Linked DNA regions of Homo sapiens. The protein of the gene in region 1 purifies or fractionates together with the protein of each later gene. This does not show direct contact. Each region holds a gene or a part of one and is shown on either strand. Other genes may lie near its edges.

What was found.
Region 2: the proteins of SPPL2A (region 1) and TMED7 fractionate together in Homo sapiens (co-fractionation; one large-scale study listed by BioGRID). This does not show direct contact.

Annotation. Positions count from the first base shown.
Region 1 is NC_000015.10:50,762,808-50,767,179, forward strand, and holds the start of SPPL2A (signal peptide peptidase-like 2A isoform 1 precursor), read right to left. Parts: upstream 2,900-4,372; 5' UTR 2,727-2,899; coding exon 2,661-2,726; intron 1-2,660. UniProt on the Homo sapiens protein: Intramembrane-cleaving aspartic protease (I-CLiP) that cleaves type II membrane signal peptides in the hydrophobic plane of the membrane. Functions in FASLG, ITM2B and TNF processing.
Region 2 is NC_000005.10:115,615,757-115,619,571, forward strand, and holds part of TMED7 (transmembrane emp24 domain-containing protein 7 precursor), read right to left. Parts: intron 3,444-3,815; exon of another isoform or gene 3,383-3,443; intron 690-3,382; coding exon 453-689; 3' UTR 1-452. Other genes in the region: TMED7-TICAM2 (TRAM adaptor with GOLD domain isoform 1 precursor), read right to left, coding at 562-689. UniProt on the Homo sapiens protein: Potential role in vesicular protein trafficking, mainly in the early secretory pathway. Appears to play a role in the biosynthesis of secreted cargo including processing and post-translational modifications.

The DNA.
Region 1 (4,372 bases):
CTGCAACCTCTGCCTCCCGGGTTCAAGCAATTCTTCCGCCTCAGCCTCCCAAGTAGCTGGGATAACAGGCACGCACCACCACGCCCGGCTAATTTTTTTTTTTTTGTATTTTTTTTTAGTAGAGACGGGGTTTCACCATATTGGCCAGGCTGGTCTCAAACTCCTGACCTTGTGATCCACCCACCTGGACCTCTCAAAGTGCTGGGATGACAGGCGTGAGCCACCACGCCCGGACAAGTAGTGCCAGTTTCAAGAGCCCAGAGAGGAGAAATGAAATGATTGAGCTGGCATCACTAATCAAAGGAACTCAGAAAGGCTACCTAGAGCTGTAAAATTAGGGAAGAGGAATAAACAAAGGGCTTCAGGGAGAAAATGGTAGAAGACTTCAGACAGAGTTGGAGGAAAGGAACTAGGTATCCAGAAAGGAGAAAGAACTCCAGCTGAGGAAAAGGAAACCAGATCTACCCAAGTTCTCAGAACACGAAAGGAATGAGAAAGAACATCTCAGGAAATTAAAGGAAGGAGGAACCAAGAAGAAAACAAATCCATAAAGAAATCAACAAGAAATAGAAAAATCAGTGATACTAGCTGGTATCGAAAAAAGATCCTTACAATTTAAACAGATATTGTCAGTTTATTCAGTCATCAGGACATTACATCCCATATAATAAGATGCACACCAAACATTTGCAGTGTAGAAAAATGTTACTTAATCTTCACAACAACCCTAGAACCGAGGAATATAGAACCCGAGATTACCATGGTGAGGTACAACAAAGCACATAGGTGCAATATAAAAGGCCTAAAATCGCCGGGCATGGTGGCTCACGCCTGTAATCCCAGCACTTTGGGAGGCCGAGGAGGGTGGATCACGAGGTCAGGAGTTCGAGACCAGCCTGACCAACATAGTGAAACCCCCATCTCTACTAAAAATACAAAAATTAGCTGGGCATGGTGGTGCTTGCCTGTGATCCCAGCTACTCGGGAGGCTGAGGCAGGAGAATTGCTTGAACCTGGGAGGCGGAGGTTGCAGTGAGCCGAGATCGCGCCACTGCACTCCAGCCTGGGCGACAGAGTGAGACTCCGTCTCGAAAAAAACAAAAACAACAACAAAAAAAGGCCTAAAATCCAGAACGTGGGAGACAGCCTAGATACAATTTAGAACAGGGATGATCTTTAGATTTGTGAAGGCTATGAAATCAAATGACAAGTCTACTTAAGTAGAGTTTTCTGGTGAGAGGGCTCAGGGCCTTTAATAAGAATTTCAATGTGAGTTTATGAGGAACTGATGTATCACTAAGCTATTAATTTATGTTGAGAAGGGATTAGTACGAATGTGATATTCATTCTTAAAATCAGCTCAAGAGATTCAAATGAAAATGAATGCAAAAACACTTTGAAAAGTTTTATATCTAGGTTATAGTTTTGCATACATCTACATACTATCTGAATATCTTTTGGACATAAGTATTATCTGTCTGATTACACAGTAAACACCTTAAAGACTCCGACTAACACTGCTACTTTGTTGCTCTTTTTATATCGAACTCCCCTCCCCCAGCAATTTTTAGATACATTCTCTCAGGTTCCTGATGTTGCCTGTCAAAGTTATGAATACACCAAAAGGCACTTACTTTTTGGCTTAGATTTTGGTTTTTCAATAAATATTAAAGACACTTTTGTATTCACTAATACTAACCCCTTAAACTGGAGAGTCAGCAAAACAGTCTTTCAAAGAAATCACACATTCTAATAGAACGAAACAAGCTTACACGACACCAATTCTGTAATAAATAACATGCGTAAGTTTCCAACCTGAAACTCCCTAAGTAAAAGTCACTAGAAACAAAAACTGAAACACCGGGTTCCTGACACCCCACTCCCACACTGAAGCTCGAATTACTTGAGGCTGAATTTTAAAACACTATTACTTCTCTGTGACTATGAAAACAAATCTATGAACACATATTTCTTACTTACATTTAACCGACGCTCCCCACCCATCCCTTTAAATTAGGCAGAAAACTGAAAACCACTAAAAGCATTACATTTTGGTGTCTTCTTTTAAAAGTTATTTTAAATTACTGCTATTAAAACCCCCCCTCCAAAAAAAAAAAACCCTCATAACAGAATCAAATGAGCCCTAAGGCGAAGCAGGAGCTACAGTGGGGGAAGGGAATTTTAAAAAGACATCCGTGTTAGTGCAATTAAAGTGCAGTCCTCGAACCGCTAAACATACTGGCGCCTTGTATAATTTTTTTTTCTTCCCAAGGGTAAAAAGCGGTAAGAAAGGCTTAGACAATAAAACCCAGAGGTCAATTTTAAATATGCTGGGACAGTGAGCAACTATCGAGAAGCATCAAGGTCAACGCAACCTAAGGGGCTCCTCTGATCTTTTTGCGGTAGGTATTTCGCCAGACTTCAATGGGCGGGAACCGAGTGGGGGGCGGGAAAGTTGGGGGAAAGAGGGTGGAAAAGAGGAGGGTGGAAGGAAAGAGATGAGTAATGGAAAGAGGAGGGGAGGAAAGAGGAGTGCGAGAGCAGGCCGCGGAGGTGCGGGCAGAGGGGAGGCCGGGCGAGGAGTAGGGGAAGGGAGCCCCGGCCTTGGCCCCGGCCCCGCCCAGCCCCTGGGAGGCCTGCGCGCCTTCCCGCCCCCTTACCAGCTGGAGCAGGAAGCCCCAGAGTAGGGCGGCCCCGGCAGGGGACAGCCGCCGCTGCGGCCCCATCGGACTGGTGGGTGCCGGGTGGGACGGCACGGTGCGGCGCAGCTCACTCGGCGGGGTAGGCTCGGAGTCCCGCCGCTGCGCTGCCTCCGTGGCCGGACCGGACCGGACAGGCGCGGGCGGCCGGGCTACGACTGGACCGCCGCTGCTACAGCGGCCGCCACAGCAGCGCGACTTCCTCTTCCGGCCCCGCCCGTAAGATGCGGAAACCCCCGCGCCGGGCTCGGAGAGTCCCAGCGCTCTCCCGGTATCCAGGCGTCCCGGCGTCCCGGCGCTACGAGGCCACCGGCTGCGGGTCTGAGCCTGTCGCTTTCCGGCTGCCCGACTTTAACTCACACCGAAGCCTGGCGGGAGAACGGATTTCTCAAGGCTCGGAAGTGTCTGAGCGTCTGCTCGGTTCCCCAGTAACTACCCGAGTGTTGCATGCAGCCAGAAATCTAAGGGTCACCCTAATTCATCTGCCTGTCATTTGTTCCTGGCCACTCTGACTCACCACATAACCCAGATCCATCCACTTTCTCCAGAACTGCTGCCACCACTCTATCCAGGCCACCAACTTCCCTCTCCTCCAAACGGGTCTCAGTTTCCCCTCCGGACAGCCCAGTAGCCACATAACAGTCCCAGAGCCATCTTTCAAAACATATAAGTCAGATCATGTCTCTCTCTATCACACTTGGAATAAAATAAAAACTTGGCCGGGTGTGATGGCTCACACCTGTAATACCAGCATTTGGATGGCCGAGGTGGGCGGATCACAAGGTCAAGAAATCGAGACCATCCTGGCCAACATGGTGGAACCAAGTCTGTACTAAAAATACAAAAAATTAGCTGGGCGTGGTGGCACGCACCTGTCGTCCCAGCTACTCGGGAGGCGGAGGCAGTAGAATCGCTTGAACCGGGTAGGCGGAGGTTGCAGTGAGCCGAGATTGTGCCACTGCACTCCAACCTGGGCGACAGAGCGAGACTCGGTCTCCAAAAAAAAAAAAAAAAAAAAATCAAAACTCTACTCTAGCCTGCAAAGGTAAATCTGGCCCCTGCCTTCCTGTCTCCCCATCTTCACTACTTTCCCACACTTTAAGGCGCACGGACCTTTGGCCCTCCCGGCCTTTGCTCTGGTGGGCCGCCCGGACTTTGCTCTGGTAGTCCTCCCTGCTGGAGTGCTCTTCTCTCCAAAGCTCAGAATGCCTGCCTTGTTGACATTCACTTATCAGCTTCAATGTCGCTTCCCCAGACGGGACTTCCTGACATACCCAATCTAAAGTACCTGTCCAGTCACTTTCTTTTCTTTTCCTTTCTCTTTTTTTTTTTTTTTTTTTTTTGAGACGGAGTTTCGCTTTTCTTGCCCAGGCCGGAGTGCGATGGTGCAATCTCGGCACACTGCAACCTCCGCCTCCCAGGTTCAAGCAATTCTCCTGCCTCAGCCTCCCCAGTAGCTGGGATTACAGGCGCGTGCCACCACACCCGGCTAATTTTGTATTTTTAGTAGAGACGGGGTTTCACCATGTTGGTCAGGCTGGTCTCAAACTCTCGACCTCAGGTGATCCACCCGCTTTGGCCTCCCAAAGTGTTGGGATTACAGGCATGAGCCACCGCACCCGGCCTGTCCAGTCACTTTCATATTATTGTTTATTTTAATTATCTGCACAGCA
Region 2 (3,815 bases), on another chromosome or scaffold:
AGAATAGGGCTTGGGCTACAGTTCATCACATTTGGTTTTCTTATTAACAATTAAAAGGCAATTTTCTTCCTCCCTAACACATGTAGACATTAAATCTAAAGTTTTTAAAATATCAACTACCTATAAGAAAAGTAGTCTTAAATGGTTAAAAGGAATCAAAATACCAAAGTTTAGTGTGCGAAGAGTAGATATAAACAACTGCGAACAGAGTAGATCATTGGTGTTGAATATTTAACATGAATAGCCCAAAATGAGTTCCAAAGTTTTTCCACCTTTACAAATAAAAAAAGGTGTCCTTTCCACAGTTTGGGAATATGCATTGTACATCCCTCCCAACAAGTGTATGAGTAAGGATTTAAAAATGTTGCCAATATTAAGTTCTTCAGTACCTAAAATTAATTAGAGGACAGCAATATTACAGTGGCAATGGTGCATCAATTCTCAAAACGTAGTTATGATCCAACACGAGTTGTGGTGGTTCTTTTATCTGAGAAAAAGCTTTTCAAAAGAAATACCTGCCCTATGCTAACCACCAGAAGAATGAGGGCTTCTCCTACTGACCAATAGGCCACTCTTGTATTTAGATCCTCTGCTCGGCTTCGGCCTTGAGCTTCTCTTAAACGGAAATGAGTCTGATAATCGATGACAGACTTCAGAGCTTCGTGAATTGAAACACAGGCAGATTCCATCTGCAGAGAAATATTTTCAGTCAGTATGTGTGATACTTTCTGTAGACTTCATCTATCATATTCAGCTTTTCTTTCAATTTGATCTCAATTCCTCTTTTGACTAACATGCTACTAATCTGGCATTCATTCATACATTTATGCCAGTTGTCTTTGCAATGAAACCCCCCTGCTCATTTTCACTGGGACAACTGTTAAGGCTAGAGATCTCATGAAGCAGCTGTTTTCCCCAACTGAGATGTCACAGCCATGGCATCAGTAAGGGGGCAGATGGAACACTAAGCTAACAATAGCAGAAATACTTATCAGCTAAGGTTGGTGACTACAGAATTTCCAGCCCAAGTTCTTTAAAGAAGAATTAGGAAGAAAATGGCAGTGAGCTCACCAATGAGAATATAAGTCAAAGCCCAAATATCTATAAAAATAAACAAAGCACAGTACAAAAAAAAGCTGAATTAGTCAAAGTTCTTTGAACTATGTTTAAAACAGCCACAACATCAAAATCGTTAGTAACTTTTAAATCTGAAAGGGATCTATCAGAATAGGAATGACTTTGTTTTTTTACATTTATCTATTTGTTAAATCAGCCTTTTCCCTCATGCCAGTCAACTAAACCAATATGTATGTTCCCAACAGGATGCAAGTTTCAGTTTCACTGTGTAATCAATTTGTGAGCCTTTAGCTGATAACAGCTTGCCTTTTTATACATTTATTATACCATCTGTTTTGAGAAAGGTTAAATGACTAGTTTTTTTGTATACCATGGTTTAATATTTTTCTACTGCTGCAAACTTAATCCTAGTGGTAAAATATATGTTTTATTATTATTTTATGCAACAAGCCTGTATTAAGAGTTTTAAAAACAAATCTAAGTTTGTTTTAATTTTAGTTAAGGAATATAGAAATTAGAAAATAATGTTTAATGAAGTTCTGCCAAAGTAAGTATGAAAGGAATAATTATTAAAATATTCTATTAAAAGTGCTTTTAAAAAATGTAAGAAATTATGAGGCCAACAAACTGCATTAACCTATTAGAAGAGTCAAATATTTTTGTTGTCCTTGCTTTGTTCAGGCCCCTAGGAATGAAAAATTTGCAAAACTGTGCTAAAATGATTCCTAATTTGTGATGAGGAGCTAGAGAGAGATGTGCTTCTAGGATTTGCTTTCTCTATATTCTCAAAATGGCATATTGCCCAAGGATTCTTCACCTGGAAAGTACACATAAAGGCAAGGAGTTGACCCAAATGCAGAATATTTAGGAACTCCTTCAAGCCTGTCCATGGGGTATGGGTTAAGAACTACTGGATTAGAGAAAATCACAGAAATTAAATTACATGCATTCTACAACTTTTGAGATGTGACTTTTTTTGAGATGGAGTCTCGCTCTGTCACCCAGGCTGGAGTGCAATGGCGCAATCTTGGCTCACTGCAACTTCCACCTCCTAGGTTCAAGTGATTCTCCTGCCTCAGCCTCCTGAGTAGCTGGGATTACAGGTGCACTCCACCACATCCAGCTAATTTTTGTATTTTTAGTAGAAACAGGGTTTTACCATGTTGGTCAGGCTGGTCTCTAACTACTGACCTCATGATCCGCCCGCCTCGGCCTCCCAAAGTGCTGGGATTACAGGCGTAAGCCACCACGCCTGGCCTGAGATGTGATTTTTAAAAAACTTTTACAGTGAAAACTTCCATATATATTCAAAAGTATTGAGAAAAGTACAATGAACCCCCACCATGTCAACAAAGATTAACACATGGCTAATCTTGCTTCATCTACATTCCCCGATTATTTTTAAAGCAAATCTCAGATATTTTATCACTTCAGCTACAAATACTTTTATACTTTATTTCTAAAAGATAACACTTTTTAAAAACATAACCCCAATAGTATTATAACACATGAAATAATCTAAAACAGTTCCTTAAAGTCAGGAAATAGTGTTCAAATTTCCCCTATTGTTTCAAAGTTGGTTTTCAAGTAAGAATCCAAGTAAGGTTAACACAATCATTTGGCTGATGTAAGTGTTCATTAATCTTTAGGCTTTCTTCCTTGTTTTTCCTTTTTTCCTTGCCATCAACCCCTATCCTGTGGCATTTCCCACGTCCTGGATTTTGTTGATTGCATTCCCATGTTATTCCTTTATCCTCTGTATTTCTTGTAAACTGGCATTTGGAGCTAGAGACTTGATGGAATTCAGGTGCAATGTTCTGGGTGGGAACGTCTAGTAGTCAATGTTGTGTACTTCTTACTGCATATTATGATAAGGCACATAATGTCTAGTTATCTCTCCATTTGTGAATGATCATTCAGTCTGATCCACTCAGTATAAAGTTCCCCATCAGCCTTTTACTTAATGGTTTTAGTAGTGACTGCTGATCATTGCCTACTCTAAATCCATCATTTTATCAACAGGTAAAAAATGGTGAGAGTAAAACTTTTATCATTTATTCTGCATTACTAGCTGGTAATTTTGTTCTGAACTTACTAGCTGGTAATTTTGTTCTGAACTTACTAGCTGGTAATTTTCAATTTTAAAGTATGAAAAGTTGCTTTATAATGATCCCTATTATATGATACATTATCTTTTTGAAAGTAGAAAAATAAGACTGAGAAAAATAAAAAATGTAGCATGGATAAAGACGGGTATGATACTAACTGCTTTATTACCATTCATTTCTTATATTTACCCACTTAGGTTTTTAGAACAAGCCACCTTATACAAGTTAAAATTCATGAAGGAATGGATACAGGTTAAGGTAATGGCCCCAAAGAAATATCATTTTACAAAGCAAGGTGTCCTTCACACAAGACCTTAAAATAAAGAGAACATTTCTAAAATTAAGAGTATTTGAATATATCTTGCTAATTCTAACAACAGGTTTATGAATTAAGGCTTTTACACATTCTTAAAGCTGTTTCTTTCACCATGACTTTGGCCAAGAGACTAAATAGAACCTGGGAACACTAAAATACCAGTTTAAGATGTTAACGAATAAGTGGTAAATAATTCTTTTTCATGCCTAATTGAGTAACTTTTAGATACGATCTAAGCCCATACAGGTTGAGTATCCCTTATCCAAAATGTTTGGGACCAGAAGTGCTTTGAATTTCAGATTTTTTCTGATTTT